Homo sapiens: one gene and its partners. The protein of the gene in region 1 purifies or fractionates together with the protein of each later gene. This does not show direct contact. Each region holds a gene or a part of one and is shown in the gene's direction. Other genes may lie near its edges.

Region 1 (4,426 bases):
TTCCTTCTAAGCACTGCTTTAGCTGTGTCTCAGAGATTCTGGTATGTTATGTCTTTGTTCTCATTGGTTTCAAAGAACTTATTTATTTCTGCCTTGATTTTGTTATTTACCTAGTAGTCATTCAGGAGCAGGTTGTTCAGTTTCCATGTAAGGTTATGCGGTCTTGAGTGAGTTTCTTAATCCTGAATTCTAATTTGATGGCACTGTGGTCTGAGAGACTGTTAGGATTTCCGTTCTTTTGCATTTGCTAATTAGTGTTTTACTTCCAATTATGTGGTCAGTTTTAGAATAAGTGTGATGTGGTGCTGAGGAGAATGTATATTCTGTTGATTTGGGGTGGAGAGTTCTGTAGATGTCTATTAGGTCTGCTTGGTCCAGAGCTGAGTTCAAGTCTTGGATATCTTTGTTAATTTTCCGTCTCATTGATCTGTCTAATATTGACAGTGGGGGTTAAAGTTTCCCACTATTATTATGTCGGAGTCTAAGTCTCTTTGTAGGTCTCTAAGAACTTGCTTTATGAATCAGGGTGCTCCTGTATTAGGTGCATATATATTTAGCATAATTAGCTCTTCTTGTTGCATTGATCCCTTTACCATTGTGTAATGCCCTTCTTTGTCTCTTTTGATCTTTGTTGGTTTAAAGTCTGTTTTATCAGAGAATAGAATTGCAACCCCTGATTTTTTTTTGCTTTCCATTTGCTTGGTAAATATTCCTCTATCCCTTTATTTTGAGCCTATGTGTCTTTGCACTTGAGATGGGTCTCCTGAATACAGCACACCAATGGGTCTTGACTCTTTATCCAATTTGCCAGTCTTTGTCTTTTAACTGGGGCATTTAGCCTGTTTACATTTAAGGTTAATATTGTTATGTGTGAGTTTGATCCTGTCATTATGATGCTAGCTGGTTATTTTGTCTATTAGTTGATGCAGTTTCTTCATAGTGTCGATGGTCTTTACAATTTGGTATGTTTTTGCAGTTGCTGATTCCAGTTGTTCCTTTCTATGTTTAGTGCTCCTTTCAGGAGACCTTGTAAGGCAGGCCTGTTGATGAGAAAAATCCCTCAGCATTTGTTTGTCTATAAAGGATTTTATTTCTCCTTCATGTATGAAGCTTACTTTGGCTGGATATGAAATTCTGGGTTGAAAATTCTTTAAGAATATTGAATATTGGCCCCCACTGTCTTCTGGTTTGCAGGGTTTCTGCAGAGAGATCTGCAGTTAGTCTGAAGGGCCTCCCATAGTGGGTAACCCAACCTTTCTCTCTGGGTGCCCTTAACATTTTTTTCTTCATTTCAACCTTGGTGAATCTGATGATTATGTGTCTTGGGGTTATTCTTCTCAAGGAGTATCTTTGAGGTGTTCTCTGTATTTCCTGAATTTGAATGTTGGCCTTTCTTGCTAGGTTGGGGAAGTTCTCCTGTATAATATCCTGAACAGTGTTTTCCAACTTGGTTCCATTCTCCCCATCACTTTCAGGTACATCAATCAAACATAGGTTTGGTCTTTTCACATAGTCCCATATTTTTTGGAGGCTTTGTTCATTCATTCCTTTTCATTATTTTTTCTCTAATCTCATCTTCATTCTTTATTTCATTAAATTGATCTTCAATCTCTGATATCCTTCTTCTGCTTGATCAATTCGGCTATTGATACTTGTATAGGCTTCATGACGTTCTCGTGCTGTGTTTTTCAGCTCCATCAGGTCATTTATGTTCTTCTCTAAACTGGTTAATCTAGTTAGCAATTCCTATAACCTTTTTTCAAGGTTCTTACCTTTCTTGCATTGGGGTTAGAACATGCTCCTTTAGCTTGGAGGAGTTTGTTATTACCCACCTTCTGAAGCCTACTTCTGTCAATTTGTCAAACTCATTCTCCGTCCAGTTTTGTTCCCTTGCTGGCGAGGAATTGTGATCCTTTGGAGAAGAGGTGTTCTGGTTTTTGGAATTTTCAGCCTTTTTGTGCTGGTTTCTCCCCATCTTCGTGGATTTATCTACCTTTGGTCTTTGATGTTGATGATCTTTGGATGGGCCTTCTGAGTGGACGTCCTTTTTGTTGATGTTGATGCTATTCCTTTCTGTTAGTTTTCCTTCTAACAATCAGGCCCCTCAGCTGCAGGTCTGTTGGCGTTTGCTGGAGGTCCACTCCAGACCCTGTTTGCCTGGCTATCACCAGCAGAGGCTGCAGAACAGCAAAGATTGCTGCCTGTTCCTTCCTCTAGAAGCTTTGTCCCAGAGGGGCACCCGCCAGATGCCAGCCAGAGCTCTCCTGTATGAGGTGTCTGTCAGCCCCTGCTGGAAGGTGTCTCCCAGTCAGGAGACACGGAAATCAGGGACTCACTTGAGGAGGCAGTCTGACCCTTAGCAGAGCTCAAATGCTGTGCTGGGAGATCTGCTGCTCTCTTCAGAACCGGCAGGCAGGCTGAAGCCACATCCACAGCTGCCCCTTCCCCCAGGTGCTCTGTCCCAGGGAGATGGGAGTTTTACCTATAAGCCCCTGACTAGGGCTGCTGCCTTTTTTTCAGAGATGCCCTGCCCAGAGAGGAGGAATCTAGAGAGGCAGTCTGGCTACAGCGGCTTTGCCGAGCTGTGTTGGGCTCTGCCCAGTTTGAACTTCCTGGTGGCTTTGTTTACTCTGTGAGGGGAAAACTGCCTACTCAAGCCTCAGTAATGGTGGACGCCCCTCCCCCTACCAAGCTTGAGAGTTCCAGGTCAACTTCAGACTGCTGTGCTGGCAGTGAGAATTTCAAGCCAGTGGATGTTAGCTTGCTGGGCTCCATGGGGGTGGGATCCGCTGAGCTAGACCACTTGTCTCCCTAGCTTCAGCCCCCTTTCCAGGGGCGTGAATGGTTCTGTCTCACTGGCATTCCAGGCACCACTGGGGTATGAAAAAAAAATCCTGCAGCTAGCTCAGTGTCTGCCCAAATGGCCACCTAGTTTTGTGCTTGAAACCCAGGGCCCTGGTGGTGTAGGCACCCAAAGGAATCTCTTGGTCTGTGGGTTGTGAAGACCGTGGGAAAAGTGTAGTATCTGCTCCAGAGTGCACTATTCCTCACGGCACAGTCCCTCATGGCTTCCCTTGGCTAGGGGAGGGAGTTCCCTGACCTCTTGTGCTTCCCAGGTGAGATGATGCCCTACCCTACTTCTGCTCGCCCTCCGTGGGCTGCACCCACTGTCTAACCAGTCCCAATGAGATGAGCCACGTACCTCATTTGAAAATGCAGAAATCACCTGCCTTCTGCATTGATTCACTGGGAGCTGCAGACTGGAGCTGTTACTATTCGGCCATCTTGAAAGCTGAACCTAAATCTTTTTTTTTTTTGAGATGGAGTCTCGCTCTGTCGCCCAGGCTGGAGTGCAGTGGCATGATCTCAGCTCACTACAACCTCTGTCTCCCAGGTGCAAGCGATTCTCCTGCCTCAGCCTCCCAAGTAGCTGGGATTACCGGTGCATGCCACCACGCCCAGTTAACTTTTTTGTATTTTTAGTAGAGCGGGGGGTCTCGAGTCCTGACCTCCGATGATCCCACCCGCCTGAGCCTCCCAAAGTGTGGGATTACAGGCATGAGCCACTGCACCCGGTGATCTGTCAGCCACTTTCCTTGTCCTCTACAGCTAATCACCCAGTTCTGTGCCTGTGTTTTACACACAAAAACCTGCACATATTTATAGCAGCTTTATTTATAATTGCCAAAAGTTGGAAGCAACCATGATGTACCTCAGTTGATGAATGGATTTGGCTGGGCCTGGCTCCCCTCTATCTAACCTGGGAAGTGGAGTGTGATTGTGTGTGTGTTTGTTAGTGGAAGGACGTGTGGTTTCTCTCTGCATGGATGAATGAGTGTATTTGGAGGGTCATGGTGCTGAGAGACTGCAACTGGGATTCGGTCTGTGGGTATGAGTGAAGATTATAAGTGTGTAACCCCTCACATGTGTACTGTACTTTACACTTTAAGTGGCAGCATAGTGCTTAACCATGGCAGCAGCAGTTAACACATAGACTCTGCAGCTAGATTTCTTGGGGTTCAAATTCTGCCTCAATTCTGTGTGACCTTAGGCAAATTACTTAACTTCTCAGTGCCTCAGTTTCCTCACTTGTAACACAAGGAAATATTAACAGATCCCTCCCCTTCTTTTAGGATTATTGTGAGAATTAGAAGAGTTAATATATGTTAGGGGCTTGATACCTGGCATGTAATAAGAGCTAATTAAGTGTTCACTGTTATAATTTCTCATAACTACAGAGTAGTTTGATATTTCAGGGAGAAATAATATATGTTTGTTTCCCACTGCTTTCACAACAACCCTATGTTGTAATTAGCACTGTTCCACTGGCACCTAAAGACACGGAGGCTCTGGGAGATTTCTGGCCCTAGGCCACGAAGGCCCACTTGGGACTCAAGCTGAGGTCCTGTGATTCCATTTGGGAGCA
Region 2 (3,994 bases), on another chromosome or scaffold:
TGGGGTTTGATCCAGGCCCATTTGCGTTTTGCAGGAGGCCTGTGACCACCTCCCATTAGCAGAAGGATGGCTCCATTTGAGACAAGGCAAACTTTGTCATGCTCTGTTGCTCATGTGGCAAAGATCCTCCACTCAACCAGTTTGCCCCTGGCCCCCTGCTGATTAAAACACAACCAGTAGCAGCGAGGGATAGAATTTGGAGTTTGAAAATCATACTCTTGAGGAGGCATCTGTGAGCTTTCTAGGGTCCTGGAAATGGGTCCAGTTTGGCTTTTTTTAGAGGAGATTTCAACTAAATTCCACAGATTTTTTTTTTTTTGAGCACCTACTGTATGCTAAGCACAGGCCCTGACCTCCAGTAGCTGAAGGTCTTACATGTCCAAGAAAATGCAGTGTACAATCAGATGCTAGATTAGGAGTTATCTTCAAGAATAAACATCTATTGAGCACCTACTACATGCTAGCATATTAATAGTAAATGAGATTATGTATGTCAGGAGTCACAAACTCCAACAGCTCCATGTGTCAGGCAGGTAGCACAAATGAGTAAAGCAGGCAGGGGCAGACAGTGGGGAACTGTGGAGTCTGTGCGGAATCAGAGCACATGCCTCATTTACAGGAGACACTTTCTTCTCACCTTCAGATAATTATTGGCGGGCAAGATTAGGGGCCTAGGCAGCTGCCATGGTTCACACCTGTCATCCCAGCACTCTGGGAGGCCAAGGCAGGAGAACTGCTTGAGCGCAGGAGTTTGAGACCAGCCTGGGCAACATAGTGAGACTCTATCTCTACAAAAAAATTTTAAAAAACATTAGCTACACATGACGGCGCATACCTGTAGTCCCAGCTACTGGGGAGGGTGAGCAGAGAGGATCGCTTGAGCCCAGGAGTTTAAGGCTGCAGTGAGCCGTGTTCATGCCGCTGCATTCCAGACTGGGTGACAGAGTGAGACCTGGTCTCAAAAAAAAAGAATGGGGCCTGGTGTTGTTAGATATTCTATATTAGATATTCTAGTTTTTTTAAAGGAAGCCAGAAATCTGTACTTCTGTGTGACTTTTTGGATGTTTACATGTTGGCAAGTTATTCAGATTTAAAGACAAAACAAAACAAACTTGTGAGAGTCAAATAAAACCCATCTGTGGGCCTGACAGGACTGGATATATCCTGTTTTGCCACCTCTGGTACATGGAATGTGCTTAGTTTGATGCTTGTGTTAAGTGGAGTTATTGTTTTTAATAATAGCATATGTTATCTGACTTAATGCTCACTGCAAGCCCTAGAAGGTTGATAATCTTTATCCTCATCTTAGAGATGAGCAAACAGGGAATAAAAGAGCTTATTTCACAGCCATTTCCCTTCTTCCACTCCCAGAGGGGGCTCTTCTGGGCTTTTGTTGTGTTTTGGTTTTGTTTTTGTTTTCTTTTCTTCAATCAGCTCAGATTGAAACAATTGAATTTTTTTTTTTTTTTTTTTGAGACAGAGTCTCCCTCTGTCGCCCAGGCTGGAGTGCAGTGGCGCGATCTTGGCTCACTGCAAGCTCCGCCTACTGGGTTCACACCATTCTCCTGCCTCAGCCTCCCGAGTAGCTGGGACTACAGGCGCCTACCACCACGCCCGGCTAATTTTTTGTATTTTTAGTAGAGACGAGGTTTCACCATGTTAGCCAGGATGGTCTTGATCTCCTGACTTCGTGATCTGCCCGTCTCGGCCTCCCAAAGTGCTGGGATTACAGGCGTGAGCCACCGCGCCCCGCCACAGTTGAGTTTTTTTTTTGGCGGGGGGACAAGGTCTTGCTCTATCACCCAGGCTAGAGGCACAATCATAGCTCACTGCAGCCTCGAACTCCTGGGCTTAAGCGACCCTCCCACGTCAGCCTCCTAAGTAGCTTGGACTACAGGAATGTACCACTATACCCAGCTAATTTAAATATGTTTTTCGTAGAAATGGGGGTCTCTCTATGCTGCCCAAGCTGGTCTCGAACTCCTGGGCTCAAGCAATCCTCCTGCCTCAGCCTTTCAAAGCTCTCTTCTCGTTTAAAAGCTTCTTCCCTATGCCAGGCAGAAATTCAAAGTTCCCAGGAACCTTCTGTGTGCCAGAATGTCAGGATAAGGGGGTCACGGTCTCTTCTTTCTCTATCCCAGGTCACAGCTACTTCTTCAAGGGTGCCTATTACCTGAAGCTGGAGAACCAAAGTCTGAAGAGCGTGAAGTTTGGAAGCATCAAATCCGACTGGCTAGGCTGCTGAGCTGGCCCTGGCTCCCACAGGCCCTTCCTCTCCACTGCCTTCGATACACCGGGCCTGGAGAACTAGAGAAGGACCCGGAGGGGCCTGGCAGCCGTGCCTTCAGCTCTACAGCTAATCAGCATTCTCACTCCTACCTGGTAATTTAAGATTCCAGAGAGTGGCTCCTCCCGGTGCCCAAGAATAGATGCTGACTGTACTCCTCCCAGGCGCCCCTTCCCCCTCCAATCCCACCAACCCTCAGAGCCACCCCTAAAGAGATACTTTGATATTTTCAACGCAGCCCTGCTTTGGGCTGCCCTGGTGCTGCCACACTTCAGGCTCTTCTCCTTTCACAACCTTCTGTGGCTCACAGAACCCTTGGAGCCAATGGAGACTGTCTCAAGAGGGCACTGGTGGCCCGACAGCCTGGCACAGGGCAGTGGGACAGGGCATGGCCAGGTGGCCACTCCAGACCCCTGGCTTTTCACTGCTGGCTGCCTTAGAACCTTTCTTACATTAGCAGTTTGCTTTGTATGCACTTTGTTTTTTTCTTTGGGTCTTGTTTTTTTTTTCCACTTAGAAATTGCATTTCCTGACAGAAGGACTCAGGTTGTCTGAAGTCACTGCACAGTGCATCTCAGCCCACATAGTGATGGTTCCCCTGTTCACTCTACTTAGCATGTCCCTACCGAGTCTCTTCTCCACTGGATGGAGGAAAACCAAGCCGTGGCTTCCCGCTCAGCCCTCCCTGCCCCTCCCTTCAACCATTCCCCATGGGAAATGTCAACAAGTATGAATAAAGACACCTACTGAGTGGCCGTGTTTGCCATCTGTTTTAGCAGAGCCTAGACAAGGGCCACAGACCCAGCCAGAAGCGGAAACTTAAAAAGTCCGAATCTCTGCTCCCTGCAGGGCACAGGTGATGGTGTCTGCTGGAAAGGTCAGAGCTTCCAAAGTAAACAGCAAGAGAACCTCAGGGAGAGTAAGCTCTAGTCCCTCTGTCCTGTAGAAAGAGCCCTGAAGAATCAGCAATTTTGTTGCTTTATTGTGGCATCTGTTCGAGGTTTGCTTCCTCTTTAAGTCTGTTTCTTCATTAGCAATCATATCAGTTTTAATGCTACTACTAACAATGAACAGTAACAATAATATCCCCCTCAATTAATAGAGTGCTTTCTATGTGCAAGGCACTTTTCACGTGTCACCTATTTTAACCTTTCCAACCACATAAATAAAAAAGGCCATTATTAGTTGAATCTTATTGATGAAGAGACTGATGGCTCAAGAGAAGTGATTTTTCCAGGGTCCCATAGCTATTAGGGACCTACAAGGCCAAAGGATAGCCTAGCAGAGGAGCTTTAGCTCTCAAACCAGAATCTCACCACCCTCCGCCACCCTCAAAAACACCCCCACCACCTTCAAAACCGCTCCTGCTACCCTCCACCACCCCCAAAACCACGCTGGGTAAACACAGCTAAGGGAGAAATACTGTGCTTGCTTCTAAACACAGCTGGTATTAATGGATAAGCTCCTTACTCCTTCCTACCAGTCTACCCACTCCTAATCTCCTACATAGAAATTCTGGAGCTACTGCTGAACAGAAATTGAAGGCCTGGGGTTTTTCTGAGGCCCTTTCTGGCTCCGATAGTCTGATTGATAGTATATATATTGCTTCTGGCCTCTTATGATGGGGCTGGTGAGGAAGGTGCGTAAGGAGTGAACTCTACAGGTGACCTCCTCAGTGAGCCTGATGTCATTGTTTCTATCTCTTTT
Region 3 (4,426 bases), on another chromosome or scaffold:
CCTGCAGGGCCAGGCTACCCCCGGCCCTCCACTGGCGACTCAGGGCTGCTGGCCCTTCCGTGGCAGGACCCACTCGGCAGCAGTTCACAGTGAGCAGTGGCGAGAGCCCACCGCTGAGCGCCGGCAACATCTACCAGAAGAGGCCGGTCCTGGGCGACATCGTGTCAGGGCCTGTGCTCAGCTGCCTCCTCCACATCGCCCGCCTGTATGGGGAGCCTGTCCTCACCTACCAGTACCTGCCCTACATCAGCTACCTGGTCAGTCGCTGGTTTGGCAGGCCCGGGGCTGGGAAGGCTGAGGACCTGAGGGCCGGCCCGGGCTCTCTTGGTGCCAGGGGGTCTGTGGGGCTGCCCGGCCCTCATCTGCTCGGTGGCTCTAGGTGGCCCCAGGGAGTGCCTCAGGCCCCAGCCGACTGAACAGCCGTAAGGAGGCGGGGCTGCTGGCCGCGGTGACGCTGACTCAGAAGATCATCGTGTACCTCTCAGACACCACACTCATGGACATCCTGCCCCGGATCAGCCATGAGGTCCTGCTGCCCGTGCTCAGCTTCCTCACCTCCCTCGTCACGGGGTAGGCCTCTGCCCCAGCTGATGTAGGGGGACCGGCCCAGCGGAGGGGCTGCCCAGGAGGGGGTGGGAAGCTCAGGGGAGAGGACGTAACACTGGACTGGGTGTCAAGAGTCCTGGTTTTGATCCCGGCTGTGTGACCCTGAGCAAACCACACCCTTTTCCTGTGCCTCAGTTTCCTCATCTGGTTTGGACCAGTTGGTCTTGGAGCTCTTTCATTTAAAGCTTTTGATATGTCCGGGCACGGTGGCTCATGCCTGTAATCCCAGCACTTTGAGAGGCTGAGGCGGGAAGATTGCTTGAGCCCAGGAGTTCAAGACCAGCCTGGGCAACAAAATGAGACCCCCTCTCTAAAAATATATATAAAGGCCGAGCGTGGTGTCTCACCCCTGTAATCCCAGCACTTTGGGGGGCCAAGGCGGGTGGATCACGAGGTCAGGAGTTTGAGACCCACCTGGCCAACATGGTGAAACCCCGTCTCCACTAAAAATACAAAATCTTCGCTGGGCATGGCAGCAGGTGCCTGCAATCCCAGGTTCTCGGGAGGCTGCAATCCCAGGTTCTCAGGAGGCTGAGGCGGGAGAATTGCTTGAACCCAGGAAGCGGAGGTTGCAGTGAGCTGAGATCACGCCATTGTACTGCAGCCTAGGCGACAGAGCAAGACTCTGTCTCAAAAAAAAAAAAAAGTATATATATATGCTGGGTGCTGTGGCTCATGCCTGTAATCCCAGCACTTTGGGAGGCCAAGGTGGGTGGATCGCTTGAGGTCAGGAGTTCGAGACCAGCCTGGCCAATATGGCAAAACCCTGTCTCTACTAAAAATACAAAAAAAATTAGCCGGGTATGGTGGCTCATGCCTGTAGTCCCAGCTACTCGGGAGACTGAGGCAGGAGAATCGCTTGAACCCGGGAGGCAGAGGTTGCAGTGAGCCGAGATCGCACCACTGCACTCCAGCCTGGATGACAGAGCAAGACTCCATCTCAATAAAAATAAAAATAAATAAAGATTTTGCTAGATTCTGGTCAAGTCCTGCAGAACGGCGGGCTGGAGCTCATGAGCTCTGTTTCCAGGTTCCCAAGTGGGGCCCAGGCTCGGACCATCCTGTGTGTGAAAACCATCAGCCTCATCGCCCTCATCTGCCTGCGCATTGGACAGGAGATGGTCCAGCAGCACCTGAGCGAGCCCGTGGCCACCTTTTTCCAGGTCTTCTCTCAGCTGCATGAGCTTCGGCAACAGGTGGGCAGATCTGCTGGGCCAGGGCGGGCTGGGGCGGGGGCTGTGGACCTGGGTGACCCCCTGGGCATCTTGCTCATAGGATCTGAAGCTGGACTCCGCGGGCCGTGGCGAGGACCAGGGTGGGCCAGGGTGGGAGCTGTGGACCCGGCTGACCCCCTGGGTGTCTTGCTCATAGGATCTGAAGCTGGACCCTGCGGGCCGTGGTGAGGGCCAGCTGCCACAGGTGGTCTTCTCTGATGGGCAGCAGCGGCCCGTGGACCCCGCCCTGCTGGACGAGCTGCAGAAGGTGTTCACCCTGGAGATGGCATACACAATCTACGTGCCCTTCTCCTGCCTGTTGGGTACTGCCCCATCACGTTCCCCATCACAGTCTTCGTGGCTGTCTCCTCCCTTGGGAGGCCCCATTCTCTGCCCTTGCCCCAGAGTCAGCAGTGGGTTCTAAGAGCCAGCAGGATGGGTGAGAGCAAAGGGATTTGGCCTCAGACCCCTACCCCCAAGGTGACACACAAACAAGGACTGAGCAGTAGCCAGCAAGAGAGGCCCAGAAGCTGGCCTGTAGTGTCCCTGGGGAAGGCAGGAGAGTCAGGGAGGTGGACTGGCGGTCCGCAGGAGCTGGCGAGAGGGAAGGAGTGGCCTCCTGTTTACGAAGCTTCCCCTCTGGGCCCTGCACGGTGCTGTGCTGATCGTTTCAGCGTGTCATCTCCCTGGAGAGGACAGACAGCCTTGTGGTTACACCTGTTATCATCCTGCCACTGAAATCTAAGCTTGGGAGGCCAGGGCACCACCTGTCTTGTTCCATATTCTATTCCTAGTGCCCAGCACGGCACGGCACATATAGAAGATGCTCATGTGTACATCACAACGGAATGAATCCACATTTCACTGAGGAGGAAACTGAGGCTCAGAGACAGAGTTACTTGCCCAGAGTTGCAGAGCCAGTTCCTGCCCCATCTTCTGTGGCTCCCGAGTCCTTGGATGGGTGATAGCAGCCGCCTGCCATCTTCCCTGTCTCAGGACCTCTCCCACTCCTATCCAGGTGACATCATCCGGAAAATCATCCCCAACCACGAGCTGGTTGGGGAGCTGGCGGCGCTGTACTTGGAGAGCATCAGCCCCAGCAGTCGCAACCCTGCCAGCGTGGAGCCCACCATGCCCGGCACCGGGCCCGAGTGGGACCCCCATGGTGGGGGCTGCCCTCAGGATGACGGCCACTCAGGGACCTTTGGGAGCGTCCTGGTGGGGAACCGCATTCAGATCCCCAATGACTCTCGGCCTGAGAACCCCGGACCACTGGGCCCCATCTCGGGGGTGGGTGGCGGGGGCCTGGGCAGCGGGAGCGACGACAACGCCCTGAAGCAGGAGCTGCCGCGGAGCGTGCACGGGCTGAGCGGAAACTGGCTGGCGTACTGGCAGTACGAGATCGGCGTGAGCCAGCAGGATGCCCACTTTCACTTCCACCAGATCCGCCTGCAGAGCTTCCCGGGCCACTCGGGGGCCGTCAAGTGCGTGGCACCCCTAAGCAGCGAGGACTTCTTCCTGAGCGGCAGCAAGGATCGTACCGTGCGCCTCTGGCCGCTGTACAACTACGGCGACGGGACCAGCGAGACGGCCCCACGCCTCGTCTACACCCAGCACCGCAAGAGCGTCTTCTTCGTGGGCCAGCTTGAGGCCCCGCAGCACGTGGTGAGCTGTGACGGGGCTGTGCACGTCTGGGACCCCTTCACAGGTGAGCGGGCCCAGGTGAGGCCTGTTCTCTTCCTGCTCCTGCGCCCCACCAGGCCTCCAGGAAGGGGGCCCGAGGGTGGGGCTGTAATGCTGCGGAGTTTGGGGAGACCCAGCGAGGCCGCCTAGGAGAACAGTTAGGGCTTCGAATCTGTTAGACTTGAGTCTGAATTGGCTCCACCGGCTTACTTGCTGAGTGACCTTGAGCAAGTTCCTGCTGCTGGAAGCGTCTCCTTTCCCATCTATAAACTGAGAATCAGAAAAACTGGCGTAGAAGATAACACACAGCCGGGCGCAGTGGCTCACGCCTGTAATCCCAGCACTTTGGGAGGCTGAGGCGGGTGGATCACGAGGTCAGGAGATCGAGATCATCCTGGCTAACATGGTGAAACCCCGTCTCTACTAAAAATACAAAAATTAGCCGGGCGTGGTGGCGGGTGCCTGTACTCCCAACTACACAGGAGGCTGAGGCAGGAGAATCTCTCAAACTCAGGTGGCAGAGGTTGCCGTGAGCCGAGATCGCACCACTGCACTCCAGCCCGGGCAACAGAGCGAGACTCTGTCTCAAAAAAAAAAAAAAGAAGAAGATAACACATGTAGGGTTTTGGCTTCATGTGTAGCAGATATTTGGTCAATGGTTGCTTATTTTTTGGCGTCACCATAGGGAGAAATATGGTTAAAAGGGGGAAAGGGATGGTGTCGGGGAAGACAGAGGGAGGTGGCATTGGGTCAGCAGCACTGTGCAGAGAGAGGAGGTTGCTTTGGGGATGGGAGCCTGGCCGGGCCATGGAAGCAGGAAGGTGGGAGAGTCAAGAAACATCTTTAGGCCGATGCAGTGGCTCACGCCTGTAATCTCAGCACTCTGGGAGGCCAGGAGTTGGAGACCAGACTGGCTGACATGG
Region 4 (4,426 bases), on another chromosome or scaffold:
TCCCTGAACATTATGCATGGATCTGTACTCTTTAGAAAGTCTTTGAGTGAACCCAGCGGTATGTTATCCTGCTTTGAAAACTGCCACAATAAGTCACCAAAACACGTAATGTAAAATACGAAAGTGGTGGCAAAGATCACCTGACAGAATGGTCCACTAGAGACAAATGGCAGTAGTGAAGGAGTCTGTGTGTGTGTGTGAATGTGTGACATTTATTATGGGTGTTCTTTGTGCTGAGCATTTCACTGTTGTTTACTTAATCATCACAATTTTGTGAGATGCATGTCTTATTCCTGTTTTAACAAGGACAAAACAGGTGCACAGAGATTCAGTAACTTGGACAAGCCCTTAGTTGACAAATGGGATTTGATTCTACATCTCTCTGACTTTAAAAGTTGTGCTTTCCCATTATAAGATGTTATCTGCTATTACATTATATATTTCTATTAACTATACAATTCCACTTTTGTGCACATAGTGGTAACACGGTATATAATCAATTTGGACCAGCAGTAAAAATATGGAAAAGAGAAACGTACTATACATAAATAGTGGGGTTTAAAAAGTCAACTTTAGGGCAATAATTCCTATAGTTTGCAGTATGCTAAATGGAAGAGAGTACATGCCCACTATTGATCAAGGCATAGTATGTAGTACAAACTCACCATCACATATTTACATACATCTACATTGACATTCCCTGACAATTTAGAATGTGCCAAGCTCTGTACTCAACATTTTACATATATTGTCTCATTTAATCCTCATCCCTGTAACTGCAATGGTTTTTCTCATTTAACAGATGGAGACATTGAGGCGTGGGGAAGTAACTTCTTTCCCAGTTATACACAAGTTAAGAAGTGGGATTTGAATCTTAGTAGTCTTTTTTTTTTTTTTTTTTTTTTTTTTTTTTTTAACAGGGTCTCATTATGTCACCCGGGCAAGATCATAGCTCACTGCAGCCTTGAGCTCCTGGGCTCATATGATCTTCCTGCCTCAGCCTCCTCTTGAGTAGTTGGGACTACAGGCATGAGTCACCATGCCCAGCTAACTTTTTAATTTTTCCTTGGTAGAGAGGGAGTCTCACTATGTTGACTAGGCTGGTTTTGAACTCCTGGCCTCAAGCAAGCCTCCCACCTCGGCCTCACAAAGTTCTGGCCTTATAAGCATGAGCCACTAGCCTGGGCAACAGAGTGAGACTGTCTCTAAAGAAACAATAAAATAAATAAAGTATGGAATAATAAAATTTTAGTGAAAACTGTCTTGTTAGAAATAATGGCTATGAAAGTAAATTCGCAATGGAAGAACCTATAATTGGGAACATTTATTATGGACAAAATACGGATTGATAAAGTCATCATTAAAATATTTGAGTGGAAACTATTCCCAGTGAAAATTGTTTCAATGACATGAAAGTGAACATGGAAAAAATGGAAAATGTTTTAACCCTCCTGTATGGAAAATTGATCAATGAATTAAATTGGCTTGCTTGAGTTTATTGCAGAAAACGTTTTCCAACCAAAAATGATGTGTTGTTAGTATAGGGACCGTACAACTGGTTTAAGCCAATATGGATACATTATTATGAACTAAAGTCCTTACTTTTTTCAAGGTTTCCTTAGTTTTTACCTAATGTCTTTTTTTTGGTTCCAGGATCCCATCCAGATACATTTAGCCCCCTTGCCTCCTCAGGCTCCTTGAGGCTGTGACATTCTGTTAGACTTACCTTGTTGTCGATGACGTTGGCAGTTTTAAGGAGTACTTTGAGGTCAAGTACTTTGTAGAATGCTCCCCAATTGGGATTTGTCTGATATTTTTGTTATGATAAGACTGGGATAATGGGGTATTGGAAGGAAGACCACAGAGGTGAAGTGCTGCTCTTGTCACACCTATCAAGGGTATATACTGTCAATCTGACTTATCACTGTTGATGTTAACCTTGATCACCTGGCTGTGATAGTGTTTGTCTGGTTTCTCCACTCTAAAGTTACTCTTTTTTTTCTCTCTCTCTTTTCATCCTGTACTTTAAAAAATCTTCACATTCTCAAGGAGCTCCACGTTTTTTCCCCATCAACTTCCCTTGCATCAAGGACTTTGGGAGAGGGTTAAGAGAGCTGGGGACTGAGCCCCTGTGCTTTTAGAGTGTTTGTAACTGTGGCCTGGTTTATAATGTTTCTATAGATGTTTAATTATATTTACATCTAGAATAATATAATCTGAAAATTTGAAAGGGAAATTGATTATGCTGTGTATAGATGCTTTGATGCTTTACCAGCTCTCAGGGGAATACTAATGACACTCCTAGAAATGCATTGTGACTATCTGTTGGTATACATGTGCTTAGAATTTTTTTTTGACTGAGTTTTTTTAGAATAAGAGTAGCTTATTTGACTACTGATGACACAGAATTCTTTCAGTGCCACTTTGCCAGCCAGAAATCTCCACGGCTAGTGGCACCTCTGCCCAGGCTTTGCTTGGGCCCACTGGGCTTACTCTGCCCACTTGGCCCAGCAGACTGCGCTCAGGCTGTGCTACTGGTCTGGATCCTGCGCTTGCCTTGGCTCTGTGGTCAGCCCGCAGCTGGTCCAGGGGTGCCGTGACCAACTTCTACCTTGGATGCTGGTGTCTGGATGAGGGGGATGTGGCAGTGCCCAATAACTTGGAGATGCCAGCAACCACAGAGCCCCAAGGTGTGTTACAGCTTTTGCTTGGGGAGTCCTGAGGCCTGAGCCTCCAGAAAGTGTTACACTGTCGTTCATTTCTGCTGTCTGCAGCTTCAGTGAATGGGAGCGTGTCACAACTCATTGGGTCCTGCTGCCTGCAGCTCAGCAAATGGGGGCATGTTGGCACACAATGGTTTTTTCACTCCTATAGCTCGGCGAGCATGAGCATATGTTACAGCTCTTTTTGCACCTGCCATTCGCTCTTGTCCCATGACCAAGAGGAATGAGGTACGCGGACACTGGAGAGTGAACAAGGCAGAGAAGAATTTTATTGACTGACAGAAAAGCTCTCGATAAAGAGAGGGGACCCGAAGTGGGTAGCCCTCTGTGTGAGAGGGGGCCTGAAAGTGGATAGCCATCTGTAAGGCTGAGTCTGGGGTTTTTATGGGCTCAGAATGGGGTGTATGCTAATTGTTCCATGGGTGGGCCTGGAAAAAGCACCATTCAGTTGGCTAAAAGGCATCGAGGAAGTTCTCACTCTGGTTGTGGACTCCACCTGGAACTGGCAACTCGGTTTCAGGTTTCACTTGAAGGTCTGGTTTCACCGGAGACCTGTCCCTGTCTACCGAGGAATTTGTCTGTTTCCTACTGCTATAACTGAGATGAATACCATATTTCTTAAATATTGCTTAAAATGAAAACTGGGATGAATTATTAAATGGCTTTGTCAGATAATGCATGATTTAGAAGTACACATTTTTCTTACATAGACAAGTAAATGGAAAAGCTGTGTTTTAGAGGTTGAAAATATTAAGTACCACCATTAAAGTCAAGAAACATAAATATGGTTAACTCTAATTCCCTCTCCTGTCTTTGTTCTTATAGTATTTTATTTATAGTAGTTATACTTTGTGTTTATCCTTTTAATCATTCTGCTTTCAGCTACAGTTATCTGTGTACACTTGTATGTGTCTCTCACTAGAAAATAATGACAGTATTTTGAAGGTCAGGCTGGTGGCTTGTTTTCATATCCCCTACACGGCTACGCCTCTAGTGGGTCCTTCAAAAGTGAACTGAATTAAATTGAAGTATTTGGGGATATCTGGCTTGGAGAAGAAATTGTAGTGTGATGGCTGTTTTAACTGTTTGAAAGATGCCGTGGTGTATGGCTCCAGGGAACAGAACCTGGACTGATGGTGAAAGGTTAAGTAAGGCAGAATTTTATTCCACATAAGGAAAGCTTTGTAACAATTAAAGATATTTACAGTCATTAAGGGCTGCTTTGTAAGGCAGCATATAGATCACTTCCTGCATTCAAAATTGACACATGCAGTCAGATCCCAGGATGAAATGGTAGGTTACAATATAAAAAATAGGATTTTACATGAAAAGGTGTTGACATTTAAAACTCATCACAGGTTTCTTTAAATATCAGTGTGTGTTTGTCAATTCAAAGTATGATTTACTTTGCAAACATTCCTCTCAGGGTTTCTCACTGACACCTCTTTCCACAAAGTGAGGTACAGTTGTAGTGGACTGGACCTTGACTGAGCAGCATATCGTGCTGGAGTCTTTTATCACCAAAAGGGCTGATGTCTGCCCCAGTTTCCAGAGCAGAGTGTCTGTAAAAAACCTGCATGTGTCATATCAGCTTTCCTTCTCTTCAGCAAGTGAGGTGGAAAAAGTATGGGGAGGCCACGAAAGCCCATAGATAAATCTCCTACAGAAGCCCTGTCCCAAGAGGGCTGTGTTCCAGCCAACAC

The links.
Region 2: the proteins of WFDC2 (region 1) and MMP2 purify together in Homo sapiens (co-immunoprecipitation; one large-scale study listed by IntAct). This does not show direct contact.
Region 3: the proteins of WFDC2 (region 1) and WDR81 purify together in Homo sapiens (affinity purification with mass spectrometry; 2 studies listed by BioGRID and IntAct, with this or other methods). This does not show direct contact.
Region 4: the proteins of WFDC2 (region 1) and ACYP2 purify together in Homo sapiens (co-immunoprecipitation; one study listed by IntAct). This does not show direct contact.

Annotation. Positions count from the first base shown.
Region 1 is NC_000020.11:45,475,327-45,479,752, forward strand, and holds part of WFDC2 (WAP four-disulfide core domain protein 2 precursor), read left to right. Parts: intron 1-4,426.
Region 2 is NC_000016.10:55,503,198-55,507,191, forward strand, and holds the end of MMP2 (72 kDa type IV collagenase isoform 1 preproprotein), read left to right. Parts: intron 1-2,141; coding exon 2,142-2,245; 3' UTR 2,246-3,494; downstream 3,495-3,994.
Region 3 is NC_000017.11:1,730,689-1,735,114, forward strand, and holds part of WDR81 (WD repeat-containing protein 81), read left to right. Parts: intron 1-66; coding exon 67-257; intron 258-379; coding exon 380-570; intron 571-1,636; coding exon 1,637-1,802; intron 1,803-1,977; coding exon 1,978-2,143; intron 2,144-2,838; coding exon 2,839-3,528; coding exon of another isoform or gene 3,529-3,542; intron 3,543-4,426. UniProt on the Homo sapiens protein: Functions as a negative regulator of the PI3 kinase/PI3K activity associated with endosomal membranes via BECN1, a core subunit of the PI3K complex.
Region 4 is NC_000002.12:54,118,169-54,122,594, forward strand, and holds part of ACYP2 (acylphosphatase-2), read left to right. Parts: intron 1-4,426. UniProt on the Homo sapiens protein: Its physiological role is not yet clear.